2 separate regions of the Homo sapiens genome follow, and region 2 is linked to region 1. Evidence: fine-mapped expression QTL. A gene starts in region 1. The other region holds a variant in brackets. All regions are shown on one strand. Distances are from middle to middle.

What was found. PIP is the estimated chance that this variant, and not a neighbour inherited with it, causes the effect. A credible set is the group of variants that fine-mapping cannot tell apart.
Region 2: its variant is the best candidate, but not a certain one, in a credible set for the expression of ICA1L in caudate (GTEx, PIP 0.88).

What each region holds. Positions count from the first base shown.
Region 1 is chr2:202,869,960-202,873,959 of GRCh38, reverse strand. It overlaps ICA1L (islet cell autoantigen 1 like), which reads left to right and starts at 2,194. Exons shown (of 13, transcript NM_001288622.3): 1 at 2,194-2,341. RefSeq lists silencers at 1,882-2,011, 2,072-2,121, 2,162-2,651.
Region 2 is chr2:202,844,635-202,849,170 of GRCh38, reverse strand. The region is part of intron 1 of ICA1L (islet cell autoantigen 1 like); the gene reads left to right. Among named protein-coding and RNA genes, the nearest start is that of ICA1L, 25 kb to the left of the region's middle. The variant ATGAC/C (reference allele first, on the strand shown) is at 2,435.

The DNA of each region.
Region 1 (4,000 bases):
TCCTGACCACAAGTGCTCCGCTTGCCTCAGTCTCCCAAAGTGCTGGGATTATAGGCTTGAACTACCACGCTCTTCCTAGTGCAAGCCATTTAAACATTGTATCCAACAGCTAAAGAAAGAATTCATTCCACAGGCATTTATGAAATATGAGAGACTTGACTCCTGTCCAGGAGAAGCATCAGCAGCTAGCTCTACATTATTTTCTGATACTATTCCTACACTGTGCCACCGTGTTTCCTTAGCGACTTGTGAAGAAAAAGTGATTATATGAAGTGTAAATACTACACTTCATTAATGGCTTGGAGATACTGTGTATCTTTCTGTAATTTTACCCAGTTAAGTGAATAAAAGCAACAGGCCCGGCCGGTAGCCATTATTCTGACTTCCAGGTGTGTTCCTTGGAGGACTTTAGTCGGCCTCAGATTGAGCTGAAGAAGATATTAGTTTACTGTTCTCTTGACTTAAAACTTCATCTTGTTGGAACAAACATTTTCTAAAATACCCCAAGAACTTTACTATGGGGCATAGTAACATTTGAAAGTCATTTCGCTTGCCACTTTATTTATTCCTTGGTGAGAAAGATAATCTGTTCTTTTCAGATATTTTATAATGTATCCTTCAGTTGTGAATTAGCTATCTTTGTTTCATTTCGTTCATTGATGGATTCAACATTCATTCAGGACCTAGTTTGTATTAGGCACTGTGCTAGGTGCTAAGGCTGCAGAAATGCGTAAGGGAGGAGCAGCTTTGAAGCAGCTCGGCACCTAATGGGGAAGACAGGCAGGTAGATCGTTACAGCCAGAGAGCAGTATGCCCCTTAGGAGAAATGCCTCATTTGGTAAGATTCAGGAAAGCCATCCCAAGGAAATAGGTCAATCACTCATGTTTGCCAAACGCTAATTTTTACCCTTCTGAGGAAAGCTGTAGACTCCTCAAAAAAACAAACAAAATTTTGCACATAATCTCAGGTATTTGCCTATTCCTTGAAATCCAAATATCTCAGGGTAAAAGTCTAAAGACATTTAATGTTTTCAGTCCAAATTAACCCTCTGTAGCTTGCCACTTTTCCTATTCTAAAAGTATAATTTCCAGGTTAAGGTGAGTATTTTGTACTGTTAATATTCCAGAACCTCGGCCGGGCGCGGTGGCTCATGCCTGTAATCTCAGCACTTTGGGAGGCCGAGGCGGGCGGATCACGAGGTCAGGAGATCGAGACCATCCTGGCTAACACGGTGAAACCCCGACTCTACTAAAAATACAAAAAACTTAGCCAGGCGTGGTGGCAGGCGCCTGTAGTCCCAGCTATTCGGGAGGCTGAGGCAGGAGAATGGCGTGAACCCGGGAGGCGGAGCTTGCAGTGAGCCGAGATCGCGCCACTGTACTCCGGCCTGGGCGACAGAGCGAGACTCCGTCTCAAATAAAATAAAATAAAATAAATTCTAGACTCACCCCATCTTTGTCATCATACAGATTTTAATTATCACCTCGAGTGTTAACCTTTTAATTCTTTGCTAGCCTATGTGTCGCAGTTGTAATTAATAATTCGTATTCTGCTGTTTTAGGAAAGTTCTTTTAAGTTTTGGAGTCACCTTTAAAAAGAATGAAGTTTGAATTTATTAAATTATCTCCTACTAGTAGTAAATAGTTTTGCCTTCCTTTTTGTTTTTTTCCTGAGACTTTCAGGATCCGGTTTTACCTTTTACTCTTGAAGATTCATCATAAACATTATGGATATGGATATGTGCATTTGAGATTGGTTATGAACGGTTGTTAACTTAGACCTCTTTAAACCTTTAACACGGGAGTTAAATACAGCGGGCGAACGCTTTCCGCCTAAGGAGCACTGGTGCTAAGGGGCCGCCCCAGAAGGCCCGGCAGGTCCGGGGGTGGGGGTGCTCGGAGGGAGCCGGGAGGGCCCCGGGCCAATGCCTTCCACTTCCCCACGCCTCAGAGAGCTCACACTCAGCTCCTCGTAATGTTCTGACCGGTTTGGTGTTTGTCATTTCACTTTATTAAGTAAAGAGGAAATCGGGAAAGGAGGAATAGAGAGGGTCCCCGAGTTCATTCAAGAGCAGACCGAGAGATGCTCCGATCCCGAGTCGGGCCGGTGGCGGGGTCAGGCCGGCGCCCGAGGGGGGCGAACGCGGACGCCAGGTCGCGCGGTTTAAATCTCCCGCCTCCCGCAGCGGGAGCCTGACACCTCCACGCACTGGTGCGGAGGGGCACTGGCTGCCGGAGGGCCGGGAGTCGGCGCGGGGCTCGCGGGCGGTGGCCGGAACGGGTGCCGGGACGGATCACCGTACGGCCGAACGCGACCCGAGGAGGCGGAAGAGCGGCGCCGGTAAGCTTCTGCTGCCTCCTGTCCGCCCCTATTCCCCCTCAGGCGGCGGTCAGGCCCGGAGACCAAATCCCGGGTTCCCATGGCGACGCCGGGAGGCGGGGGCGCGGCGGGAGGCTCCGGCCACACGCGCGCGCGCGCGGCTTCTCGGGGCCTTGCTGGCCTCCTCGGTTCTCTGGGGGACCCCGGCCGCTGCCTGCGGCCTTCTTCCAGGCGAGGCCCTGCTCGGGGTTCTTCCGGCCTCCCCCCAGGCAAAACCCGCAAGGAGCGGTTTCTGGCGTGGCTGGGTCCCCTGCGGCGGAAGGGCGCCTCCCGGCCACGCTCGCTGTAGTGAAGGAGCGCGGCAGCCTGGGGCTCGTTTGGGTGATTTCCCTCGGCGGTGGAGGTCGCTCCTAATAGAGGCGGCGGCGGATCACCCGAACAGCCTTCAGGTGCTTCCCTGCTGACCTCTTTTTAACGTGGTGCTTATTTTTATTTCGCTATTATTTTGTAATGGGAATGTCTTCCTTAGAAACTAATTGGCAACCGATGGATAAAAACAAAACATAGTAAATGTGCAGTTTGAGCTGAACTGCAGAATGCACGGGCCCGCGAGGGGCTCCGCGCACAGATCCTGCTCCTTAGGCCGGCAACCCGACCCCACGGCACAGATATGGCTCCTGGAAACGCGCGTCAGCTGGTCAGGTGCCCAGGTGATGTCAGTGGTCAGATACCTGATGCTCTAAGGAAGACGGAGAGGGGAAAGCGGGGAGTCCATCCTGGCAGCTCACCCGCGATGCTGGGGCGTTGCCAGTAGAGGGGGTGGAATCATTTTTCGTGTAATAGATGATCTTGATGCACACAGCATAAAAGCTGTTATAAACTATGGGTCTCTGTAAAATAGATTGTTGGGAAGGTAACATTTTTCCATGGTTTTGATTTTTCCCAAAAGTATTTATGTATTGATTTATTTGGTTCTGACTCAGGCGACGTACTGTAAGACGATATTACTTTAATCATCTTCACATCAGTATTTATGGAATAGCCACAGGTGCCTCATCCTTTAGTAGGAGTTAATTATACATTTACTGGCCGAGTAAACATCTCCGAATGGTATGTATGTATTTTTATGTGACCAAAATTTTAAATCGTTTAGTATTTGTTATCTGTGCCTATCATACCCAGTATTCTTTGAAATCTCTTTATTTAATAGTTCAAAATGATTGTTTATCTAGTCGTTGAAACAGCTATGTGGAAGGCAGTGTTCTAATTACCAGTTTAATTTTAGAGTTAGAAGGGTGCTCAGAGATCAGCCAGTCCAAAGAGGAAAAATTGCAAATATGAGAACTGGTGGAAAAAGTAGGATGCCATATTTTTATTATAAATATCATAAAAATATAAAACAAAGTTTATACCAGTTATGGAACTAGGACCAGATATCAAAATATTAGATACAAAATAGATAATATACTGTCTTGTTCTACTATACTGCCAAACTTGGTGATTTCATTGTGTGATTCTATATTTACATTTTTTCTGTACTTTTATACTTTAGCTTTTTCAGTACTCACTGCGCTTCCTTTAAAATTTTATTCTTTTTATATTCTTTAACAACAACAGATGGGATATGTGAGTTTTAAATATATCTGTAACTGGAAAGATTTCCTCGTTCGAAGTAGATTT
Region 2 (4,536 bases), 25 kb after region 1:
AGGGCCCTGGTGGTATAGGCACATGTGGGAATCTTCTGGTCTGCGGATTGCAAAAACTGTGAGAAAAGCATAGTATCTGGGCCAGACAGCACAGTCCCTCGTGGCTTCCCTTGGCTGGGGGAGGGAGGGCCCCAGCTCCTTGCACTTCCTGGATGAGGCAACGCCCCACCCTGCTTCTGCTTGCCCTCCGTGGGCTGTACCCACTGCCTAACCAGTCCCAGTGAGATGAACTGGGTACCTCAGTTGGCAATGCAGAAATCACCTGCCTTCTGCGTTTGTCTCCCTGGGAGCTGCAGACCAGAGCTGTTCCTATTCGGCCATTTTGCCAGATCTCTGCTCCGTTATAATTTTATGGGACCACTGTTGTATATATGGTCCATCACTGGCTAAAATGTCATTATGCGGTGCATGACTATATATATCTGTACACACACAAAATATATATGTATGTATACAAAGACTAGACATTGTCTTATTACAATAATACAACTTAAAGAGATTTATGACTTTTCAGACTATATTTTAGAACCATGGCTGAGATCAGGGGTCTGCAGACTTTTTCTGTAAATGGCCAAATAGTAAATAATTTTTTGCTTTGTGGGCTGTGCAATTTGCTGGATGTACCTAACTGCCTTTGTAGCAAGAAAGCAGCTAAAGACTAATTTGCCAGCAGGCCATAGTTTGCCAGTCAGCTCAGATCTCTGAATTGAGCTGGGACATGTTCTTGGTTAGGGAGATCATTTGCCCACAGATGACTTTCTTCTGAAATGAGTTAGATCACTTCAGTAAACTTGTTTCGGTTCCTTTTATTAGATTGAGTCCCATGCAATTGCTGTTTTTATAGGTAAAAAATGGCCTAATGTTGGCACTTTCACATAGTCAACCAAAAGTTTAAAAATATGCTGTTTGGCTGGGCGCGGTGGCTCACGCCTGTAATCCTAGCACTTTGGCAGACCGAGGCAGGTGGATCACCTGAGGTCAGGAGTTCGAGACCAGCCTGCCCAACATGGCGAAACCCCATCTCTGTTAAAAATACAAAAATTAGCCGGGCATGGTGGCTAATCTCAACACCTCCTCCCTTCTCCCCACTCCAGTAGTCCCCAGTGTCTACTATTCCCATCTTTATGTCCATGTGTACTCAATGTTTAGTTCCCACTTAAAAATGAAAACATGTGGCATTTGATTTTCTGTTCCTGCATTAATTTGCTTAGGAAAATGGCCTCCAGCTGCATCCGTATTGCTGCAAAGGACATGATTTTGTTCTTTTTTATGGCTGCATAGTATTCCATGGTGTATATGTATCACATTTTCTTTATCCAGCCCACTGTTGATGTGTATCTAGGTTGATTCCATGTTTTTGCTATTGAGACTAATGCTGCAGTGAACATACAAGTGCCTGTATCTTTTTGTTTACCACCCTTTCTATTTTATTGAAGGTCTCATTTGTTCTCACTGCTTAACTATATATATATATAATTCCCATATAATATTTCATTCTAAGCTCTGATAAAAAGTAAAATGAAAAAATATAACATGAATTCTTAAGTGCCAGCAATTTCTATTCCAAGCACTTTACATATATTTCTCATTTAATTCTTATAACAATCCATTTACTTCATTATTCGTATTTTACTGATGAGGAAACTAAAAGAGAGATTAATGTAACTTGCACGAGGTCCCACAGCTAATAAAAAAAAGTTCTTAGGTTCAAACCTAGACAGTCTGACTAGAGACCCAAGCTTGAAACAATTTTTTATTACTACAGTTTTAATTACCTGTTGGAAATTTTGGAAAACTCTGATGTTCTTGATCATTTCAGATTCAAGATGTCACAGATGAAATGTGTAACCTTCCCACTTAGAGAACTGCTTCTTCTAATTGCCCTTATTTTTCTGGGGCAAAACTGCTTAATCATTATTTACCAAGTTCTGTAGATATCTGCCTTTATAGCCATTCTTACACTAATGGCTTGGTCCAGGCTTTTATTAGATTATGTCTGGAATATGGAGAGATTGTTCTGAACTCTCTGTGTTTAGTCTCTCTGCTAAACAGGTCTCTACAATCTGTACCATCAATCTGCCTTTCTCTTCTTCAGCCTGTATTTGGAATAGTATTTCCTTGCCTCCTGCTGTTAAAATCTGTTTTTCTTCAACATACAGTTCAAAGGAAATTTCACTCATGGTACCCAGCACATCAGAATTTCAATCCTATTTCTGTTATTAATTAGGTGTTCGATTGTTAGCAGGAGAGGGGGAGACCAGCTCCCTTACAAATAAAGTTCATGTGATTTAATATATAGTCTTGTAATAACTATTTTAACTTCTCAGATATTTTTATATGCACTTACTGATTATTAGTCACATTTCAGGTAAGATTGCTACATAAAACTATAAGCACTTAATATATATTTAACAATGAATGAATGAATGAATGA[ATGAC/C]TCACTTTTGGATAAGGGCTTGCAAGTGTTGGATAGTGTGGTGTTATTTTTTATCAACATTTGCTGGTTCCTAACTTCCGTAGCTCTCATTACAGTCTTGTTACAGTGTTGGGTGTGTTAGGCTTCAGGGACAGGCCTCTGACCTTCTGCCCTCCTTTGACCTGCCTTGAGACTCTGAGTGTTTCCCTGAGTTCTGTGAACCACTCTGGCAAATTAATCGAGCCCAAAAAGGAGTCTTGGGAACCCCCCACTTGAAGCTGGTGGGTCAGAAGTTCTGGAGACCCTGACTTGCAACCAGTCTCTGGTCTAGTGGGGGTGAGGGCACAGTCTTAGGATCTCTACAAAAAAAAGAAAAAAAAATTAGCCAAGTGTGATGGCATGCACGTGTGGATCACTTGAGCTTGGGAGGTCAGAGCATAATGGCACTGCTGCACTCCAGCCTAGGCAACAGAGCAAGATCTTGTCTAAAAAAAAAAGAAAGAAAGAAAAACCAAAAAGGGTAAAAGTATAACTGGTCTTGATAAGAAAACATTTTTATAATAATAATAGTTATTCAAATAATAGTTATACATGTTAATTGTAGCAAATTTGCTGCAGAAAACTATCAGAAACTACAGTAAACTGTCATCCATGATCCCACTGCAGAGAAAACCATTGCCGACATTTTTGAGCATTTCCTACCAGTTCCCCCCTTCCAAAGTTGAATTATTTATAAACCGTCACTCTGAGGAATGTTGATTGTGTTCGTAAGAAAACTCATGGCTTAGGAGCCAGAGTAAGCAGGACTACTATGTTAAACAGCAGGTTTGACTAATATATTTTCTTAATTGCATCAAACACTAGTGTTATATTAAGTCAAAAGTCTTCACAGATTATTTTTCTCAAGAGGATTTCAGTGCTTCAGTGTGCACATTAATATCAGTTCCACTTGCTTTTCAGTGATGTCATAGTAATGAGACGTTATAAGTGAATACAAATCTACCTCTAAAGAGATTATTGATTTGTTTTATTTTACTTAAGATTTGAATTCCAAATCCAGGACACAGCTGAAAATTTAAATACTGTATAGTGTAAAAAGGAATAAAGTATTCCTTTTTTTTTTTTTTAAGACAGATTCTTGCTCTGTTGCCCAGGCTTGAGTGCAATGGCGTGATCTTGGCTTACTTCAGCCTCCGCTTCCCGGGTTCAAGTGATTCTTCTGCCTCAGCCTCCCAAGTAGCTGGGATTACAGGTGCCTGCCACCACGCCCAGCTTATTTGTATATTTTTAGTAGAAACAGGGTTTCACCATGTTTGCCAGGCTGGTCTTGAACTCCTGGCCTCAAGTAATTCACCCGCCTTGGCCTCCCAAAATGCTGGGATTACAGGTATGAGCCACCATGCCGGGCCTCAAGTATCTTTTATGAAGAAATTACTTGAGCCTATCCTTTTGCTAAATAAGAGTGAAAACTGATAGAGGCTGTAGTAGAATAATGGCCTTCCAAAGATGTCCATGTCCTAATTCCTGAAACCTATGAATATGTTACTTTCTGTTGCAAGAGACTGTGTTCAAAGAGACTTTGAAGATGTAATTAAGTTAAGGATATTGAGATGGGGATATTATCCTGGATTATTTAGGTGTGTCCAATATAATCACATAGGTCTTCTTAAGGGGAAGGCAGAAAGGTCAGAAGAAGATAAGACAATGTGATGACATATAGAATTAGAGAAAGATTAGAAGATGCTATGCTGCTGGCCTTAAAGATGGAGGAAGGGGGACCACATGCCAGGAAATGTAAGTGGCTTCTAAAAGCTATAAAAGACAATGAAATGGATTCTCCTTTGTAGCCTCCAGAAGAAATGCAGCCGTCTGACAACTTTATTTTAGGACTCTGACCTCCAGAATGGGAAGACAGTAAATTAATTTTGTTGTAAGTTACTAAGTTTGTGATCATTTTTTATAGCAGCAGTAGGAAATTAATACACAGGGAATATATCTTTCTCATTCTTGACGTTTCCTCCTATGTTAAAGGAGCTCAATTAGTTTAACTCCTAGTCTCTCTCTACCCTCTCATTTCTTTCTAGAGGAGGAGTGGCTTGTCTGGTAAATTTGGGAAGCA